Linked DNA regions of Homo sapiens. The protein of the gene in region 1 interacts with the protein of each later gene in a pairwise test. Each region holds a gene or a part of one and is shown in the gene's direction. Other genes may lie near its edges.

Region 1 (3,750 bases):
GTCAGGACCTCAAGACCAGCCTGACCAACATGGTGGAACCCTGTTTCTACTAAAAAATACAAAAATTAGGCCGGGCACGGTGGCTCATGCCTGTAATCCCAACACTTTGGGAGGCCAAGGCAGGAGGATCACGAGGTCAGGAGTTCGAGACCAGCCTGGCCAATATGGTGAAACCCTGTCTCTACTAAAAATACAAAAATTAGCCGGGCATGGTCGTGGGTGCCTGTAATCCCAGCTACTTGGGAGGCTGAGGCAAGAAGAATCACTTGAACCCAGGAGGTGGAGGTTGCAGTGAGCCCAGATCGCACCACTGCACCCCAGCCTGGGCGACAGAGCGAGACTCCGTCTCAAAAAAAAAAAAAAAGAAAGAAAGAAAGAAAAAAAGAAAAGAAAAGCTTTTCTAGGTTGGAAAAGGGAATGGAGGGAATTTCAAGGGGTGGGACCCTCAGGGGCAGAGACCCAGAGGTGGGAAAGAACAGAGAATTTGCTGTGAATGGTTTTTGAGAAGGGATGACTTGAAAGCTGAGGCCTGAGGGGAACAGGGAGGGCCAAGCAGGAAGGGGCCGCGGCCATGGCTGTGTTTGGGCAGCAGAGTCCGTGCCAGGAGGTGGGGAGGCTATCGGAAGGCTGTTGGTGAGAAAGGAGAAAATATGCAAAGCAGATGTCAACATGGCTCAAAAGCAGAAATGGTCTGAGGCAGGGTGTTGAAGACACTGGACTCGCAAAAGCAGCTTGTGCTCTGATGTTCATCTTGGCCTCCCTGTCCCCGAGGCTTCCGGATCAGCCTCCTTTATGTACTGGCCTCCAGAAACACTGTGTTTAGAATTGACTGTGTCATTTCCACCCTGCATCTTACAGTTACAGACATGGAGGCTCTGGGAGGCAGGGAAATGACTTGTCCAAGGTCACATAGCCAGTCAAAAAAGGCAGGACACAAACCCTGCGTCCCAGACCTGTTCGTCCCCCTACAACCACTTAGGGGTTGGTGGGCAATTCGTACTAGAGTATAATTGACTGATAGATGCTGTTAACACAAAGTAGCCCTTTTGCCTTTTTTTTTTTCCCGCTCTGTCGCCCAGGCTAGAGTGCAATGGCATGATCTCGGCTCACTGCAACCTTCACCTCCCGGGTTCAAGTGATTCTCCTGCCTCCTGCCTCAGCCTCCCGAGTAGCTGGGATTACAGGCGCCCACCATCACACCCGGCTAATTTTAGTAGAGACGGGGTTTTGCCATGTTGGCCAGGCTGGTCTTGAACTCCTGACCTCAGGTGATCTGCCCACCTTGGCCTCTCAAAGTGCTGGGATTATAGGCGTGAGCCACCGCACCTGGCCCAGTGGCCCTTTTTACAAGAGGAGCTGGGTTGGAATTAGAATGTTCAGGAGGCAGGAAAATTCTCTGGAGGTCTTGCTGACCATAACAAATATTCCTAAGTAGCTACCTGCTCCTTGACCAATTCTATAGATGCAGAAACTGAGGCTCAGAGACTTGCTTTTATATATGAGGGCCACAAAGTCAGTTGCTTCAGTGGTGAAAACATTTCCCATCGGAAGGAGCACAGAGTGTGGGTGCAGCCACTTGTGTGCATGTGACTGACGTGGCCAGAGCTTCCGATTTTTCAAGAGGAAACAAAAATTTAGATTTTAATGTAATAATGAACAGCTACCTCAATTTCTGTTTTTTTTGAGACGGGGTCTCCCTCTGTCATCCAGGCTGCAGTGCAGTGGTGTGATAACGGCTCACTGTAGGCTCGACCTCCTGGGCTCAAGCGGTCCTCCCACCTCAGCCTCCCGAGGAGATGGGACTCCAGGCACACGTCACCACGCCTGAATAATTTTTTAATTTTTTGTAGAGATGGGGTCTCACCCTGTTGCTCAGGATGGTCTCAAACTCCTGGCCTCAAGCAGACCTTCTGCCTTGGCCTCCCAAAGTGCTGGGATTACAGGCATGAGTCACCGCGCCTGGCCGCTATCTCATTTTTAAGGAAGGAAAAAGGGTTCAGGGTCCTCAGACCGCAGCGTTACACCCACAGAACCTTCCCTAAATCACTGCCCTCCCGCAGCCTCCTCAGAGAGAGGTGGGGTTGGCTAGGAGTCAGAACGCTAGCCCGTGCCAGTTTCCCCATATGTAAATATTCGGGGTGGACTGAGCCACTCTGAAGCTTTCTTTTTTTTTTTCCTTCTGAGATAGAGTCTTGCTCTGTCTCCCAGGCTGAAGTGCAATGGCACGATCTCGGCTCACTACAACCTCTACCTCCTGGGTTCAAGTGATTCTCCTGCCTCAGACTCCCGAGTAGCTGGGACTACAGGCCTGTGCCACCATGCCTGGATAATTTTTGTATTTTTAGTAGAGACGAGGTTTCATCATGTTGTCCAGGCTGGTCTTGAACTCATGATCTCAGGTGATCCACCCACCTCAGCCTCCCAAAGTGCTGGATTACAGGCGTGAGTCAGAGCACCTGGCCCACTCTGGACTTTCTCAAAGCTCATGTGCCTGTCCCCTGAGTCCTCCCCCTCCCACACTTACCCCTGGTCTGTCTGTCCCCCCAGGGCTCACCCTTCAGAGGACAATGACTTTTACATCAACTACAAGGACATCGACCTGGCTTCCCAGCCTGTCTACTGTAACCTGCAGTCACTGGGCCAGGCCCCAATGGATGAAGAGGAGTACGTGATCCCCGGGCACTGAGCCTAAGATGTCCTAACCTCCACCCAGAACCCCTTCAGTCCCTGCTGGGTGACTCAGGGCGTCCTAACGCCTCCATGGCCTCAGTTTCCCCATCTGAAGAATGGGTACAGGAAAGGATTGTCCTTGAGGCCCCAGGAAGCTCTGCCGCCCCCTCCCTGTCCCTCATGCCGCTCCTCAGCTCCCTCAGCTCCTAGAGGGGGAAGAGGAGAGACCCCCAACAAGGGGACAGGACGGTCACTGTGCCAATCCTGTCATCACCCTCCTGTGGATGTACAGGCAGTGCTCAATAAATGCTTCGAGGCTGATGAGGCTGCTGGCTCAGGGTGCGTGGGTTCCTCAAGGTGGGGATTTCTGAGTTCTAAGACCAAGTCTCCATCTGAGACTCCCAAATTGCTCCCCACCTCCCATCCCTGTTTTTTTTTGTTGTTGTTGTTTGTTTGTTTGTTTTTGAAACTGAGTGTCACTCTGTCACCCAGGCTGGAGTGCAATGCTGCGGTCTCAGCTCACTGCAACCTCCGCCTCCTGGGTTCAAGTGATTCTCCTGCCTCAGCCTCCTGAGTAGCTGGGATTACAGCACCCGCCACCATGCCGAGCTAATTTTTGTATTTATAATAGAGATGGGGTTTCGCCATGTTGGCCAGGCTGGTCTCGAACTCCTGACCTCAAGCGATCTGCCCGCCTCGGCCTCCTGAAGTGCTGGGATTACAGGCGTGGCCACTGCGCCCAGGCACATTCCTCCCTTCTGCCCCTCTCAGGGCCCCTTCCCAGGTCCCTGATCTCCAGGCTTGGCCTCCAGAGCAGCCCACACCAACCCCAAAATAAAAAAATGTATATATTCCTTTAGCTCTAATATTCTGAGAAAATCTTTCAAGACCCTGGTGCAATGCCACCTCCTTTGAGAAGCTGTCCCTGGTTTCTTCTCAGGCAGAGTTAATGACTCACAGATGTCTGTATTTCAAGAGTTTTTTCAGGCTCATGCCTCAACTGGGTTTCCTATCAGCTGGTCCCAGCCCAATCCTCCAACCTGGGGGAGATAGAACTAGAGACAAGTACCCTCAGTCCTG
Region 2 (3,650 bases), on another chromosome or scaffold:
AGCCTTGAACTCCACCTTAGCCTGTGGAGTAGCTAGGTTTACAGGCATGTGCCACCACACACGACTAATTTTATAATTTTTTTTCTTAAAAGACGGGATCTTACTATTTTGCACAGGCTGGCCAAATCTGCCCTCAGGTGATCCTTCGACCTCAGCCTCCCAAAGCTCTGGGATTACAGACATGAGCCCCTATGCCTAGCCAGATTTTCCATTTTAAAGTGTGGCATTTAGCACGTTCATGATGTTATGAACCGTCACGTTTCTAAAACATTTTCATCACCCCAAAAGGAAACCCCATATTCATTAAGCAGTTGTTCATTCCCTTCTCCCTGCCAATCCTCGGCAACCACTGATCTGCTTTCTGCCCCCATAAATTTATCTATTCTGGATTTTCCTAAAAATTGAATAATTCAATATGTGTTCTTTTGTGTCTGGCTTCTTTCACTTAGCATGTTTTAGAGGTTCGTCCTCTAAATCAGCAGGTATCAGTACTTCATTCCTTTTTAAGGGTGAGTAATATTCCATTCTATATTCCATTCATATACACCACATTACATATATATCATTTCGTTGATACGTACTGCATTTTGTTTATTCATTTGTTAAATTTTTGTGTGCTATTCAGAAAGTTATATGAACATCTCTAAATTGATTTTCGTCATAATCTCTACAAGGCTTGCTAAGGTAGTGTTATGGTGTCAGGTGTGCTACCTAACATATCATTCATTACTTGCAGTTAAGTGATTGTTAAATGAGTTTTGAAAGACGCAAGGTCAACAAAAATGGATTTTTAAGTTGGTTCAGTTGATACGTGGTGTGGTTTGGTTCTGCGTCCCCACTCAAATCTCATCTCAAATTGTAATCCCTGTGTGTCGAGGGAGGGAAGTGATTGCATCATGAGGGCGGCTTCCCCCATGTTGTTCTCGTGACAGTGAGTTCTTACAAGATCTGATGGTTTTACAAATGGAAGTTTTTCCTGCACTCTCTCTCTTCTCTCTCCTGCTGCCTTGTGAAAAAGGTGTCTGTTTCCCCTTAGCCTTCCTCCATGATTGTAAGTTTCCTGACACCTCCCCAGCCATGTGGGACTGTGAGTCAGTTAAACTTCTTTCCTTTATAGGTTACCCAGTCTTGGGTATTTCTTTATAACAGTGCAAAAACGGACTAATACAATACGTTTTCACAAAATTTTACAATAGAAGCATCTTTAGAGTTTATTTGAACAAACAATTCATGAATTGAGCAGCTCCAAACCAGATCTGGGAGCTCCACCAGGGGAATCCAGGAGGGAGGCTTTTATAGGAGGGTCACAGATGTAAAGCAAAGAAAATATTTGATTGGCTGCAGTTATACAGTTGTTTTATTTGGTCTGTCGTGTTGGAAGGTCCCCTAGATATGTAATTAGAAGTTTGTTGGATGTTTCTGATTGATTAAGCTTAAGTTCTCTTTTTCTTTAGCATAGGCATTTATAAGAAGTAACTTCATATTTTGCTTATGTTTGCAAATCAAGTGAGGTTGATGTCACTTATGAGGCCTAATTGGTTTTGTCTGCTCGGGGATTCTTCAGGCATGGTTTCCATTTTAATTTACTTCAGCAGTGCTAATTCTCATTCAGTTTTTGTGGTACAAATGGTGTGCCAATACTGCATTTCATCCAGGACCCTTGGGCGATGGAACCATTCTGTTTCTCCATGTCTTCATTTGGAGGGTGTGACTGATGGAATTATGTCTACCCTGGTGCACTTAAATTCTGCAGACTACTTCAAAACAGCATAAGTAGAGTGGATACCTAAGGGAATTCTTAAACACGTAGAACAGGAACCTATAACTTCTCATCTAGTACAATGTGAGATAGTTACATGAGATGAAGATAGCAGTTCTACTGTATGTAAATGTGTACCTTTCTCTAATCTCATTTTAGCAGTTTATGAGTGGGACACTTCATTACCCCATTTATGTTCAACCTCTAACAGTTAATATATTTCATTTTATTGTTGTCATTGTTTCTAAGAATAGCTATTTCTTTCTGTCCATCCATTCATTCATCTATCCATCTCTCCCTGGATGGTGTACTATAGGATTAAGGTAGCTTAGATCACAAGTGTTTAAACAATTGTAGAACTCATAGCAGGCAAAACTGAATGTCATTTTGTAGAGTTCTGTCTTGTTTTCTGTTTTGGGTATGTTTGTGGTCTTGGTTGCAGAAATCCAGTCACCATTTCATTTCGTTAAGTGGATTATAACTTTTTAAGCAAAATTCTGCTTTGGTAGATAATAAAAACTGCAAGAAAACATTTGAGTAATATTAAATCTAGTACTCTGGTTTAACCCCTGCAAACAGGAGTTCTTGATTATTTATTCCTCACCACATTTTCTCTGGATTTATCTGTTGCCCACCAAAACTGAAGACCCATTCTGGTGGCAGGTTGACTGTTCCAGAAAGAATGAAAAATCTTGTCATGTGAATTTTACTTTTGAACTTTTTTGGTTTAGATCTGCCTTACCTTCCCCCCCCCCCCCCCCCCCGCCCCACACAGCCTTTCCTGTGTGTGTGGATTGGTGTGCTGTAGATCTGAAGCTCTCAGATCTGAGCACGAATGACAGTCATCTGGGGAGCTTATTAAACATGCAAGAGCTTTAATCCCACTCCTAGGGATTCTGATTCTCCAGGTATGCAGTTGGCTCAGGAGTTTGCATTTTAAAAAACACACTAGTAATTCTGGTGTGCATGCTATAGGTAACCCTGTAGTAAGAGGTTCAAAGAACATATGATGTTTCATTGAATCTATGACGCCACAGATGGTAAGGGTCAGAATCTGGTAGCTTTCAGCTGCATGACTCCTAAGCCCTAATTTCCAATCTTGTGGCTAATTTGTTAGTCCTACAAAGGCAGTCTAGTCCCCAGGCAAGAAGGAGGTTTGTTTTGGGAAAGGGCTGTTACCATCTTTGTTTTAAACTATAAACTAAGTTCCTCCCAAAGTTATGGCCTATGCCCAGGAATGAACAAGGACAACCTGGAGGTTAGAAGCAAGATGGAGTTGGTTAGGTCAGATCTTTTTCACCATTTCAGTTATAATTTTGCAATGGTGGTTTCACTACTAAGAAATAAAAATGTGGTTGTAAGCCTTATCCTGAGTTTAGTTAAAATGAGGGAAGCAAGATGCAAAATGAGTTTAGTTAAAATAAATAGGGTATTAAGTGCCTGGCAACCAGAGGTTCCTCTTATTATCTTAACAGGTTATTATGAAGCATAGCAGATATGAGATTTTAAAAAATTACAAAGCAACAGTTCTTCAGATCTTTTACCATATAAATTATTTGATTGCAATGAGGAGTTTATATAAGGTGTCCTTAGTTGACATCTATTTGTAATGAAAATTGTACTGATGACTTTGTTTTAAAATGCAACTTAGGTGTATATGGGGGTGTAATAGACTCCAGTTTGGCCCCATATTAATTTCATCCTACTCATTTCCAGTCATTTAGATGTTGCTGGCTCAGTTCAGAAGTCTGATTTCTATCCTCCTTGTACTTCAGTGATTCCTGTTTTGTAATTATAGTCCACTGAAATAGTAAGGTGTGGCATAATCATTTGATGTCTACCTTTTTTTTTTTTTGCCACTTTCCTGTTAGAGAGTCCACAGCCCTCATTA

The links.
Region 2: the proteins of LRRC25 (region 1) and FAM3C interact in binary tests that used the Homo sapiens proteins (3 or more experiments, as listed by UniProt).

What each region holds. Positions count from the first base shown.
Region 1 is NC_000019.10:18,390,923-18,394,672, reverse strand, and holds the end of LRRC25 (leucine-rich repeat-containing protein 25 precursor), read left to right. Parts: intron 1-2,547; coding exon 2,548-2,686; 3' UTR 2,687-3,536; downstream 3,537-3,750. UniProt on the Homo sapiens protein: Plays a role in the inhibition of RLR-mediated type I interferon signaling pathway by targeting RIGI for autophagic degradation.
Region 2 is NC_000007.14:121,389,727-121,393,376, reverse strand, and holds part of FAM3C (protein FAM3C precursor), read left to right. Parts: intron 1-449; exon of another isoform or gene 450-509; intron 510-2,015; exon of another isoform or gene 2,016-3,650. UniProt on the Homo sapiens protein: May be involved in retinal laminar formation. Promotes epithelial to mesenchymal transition.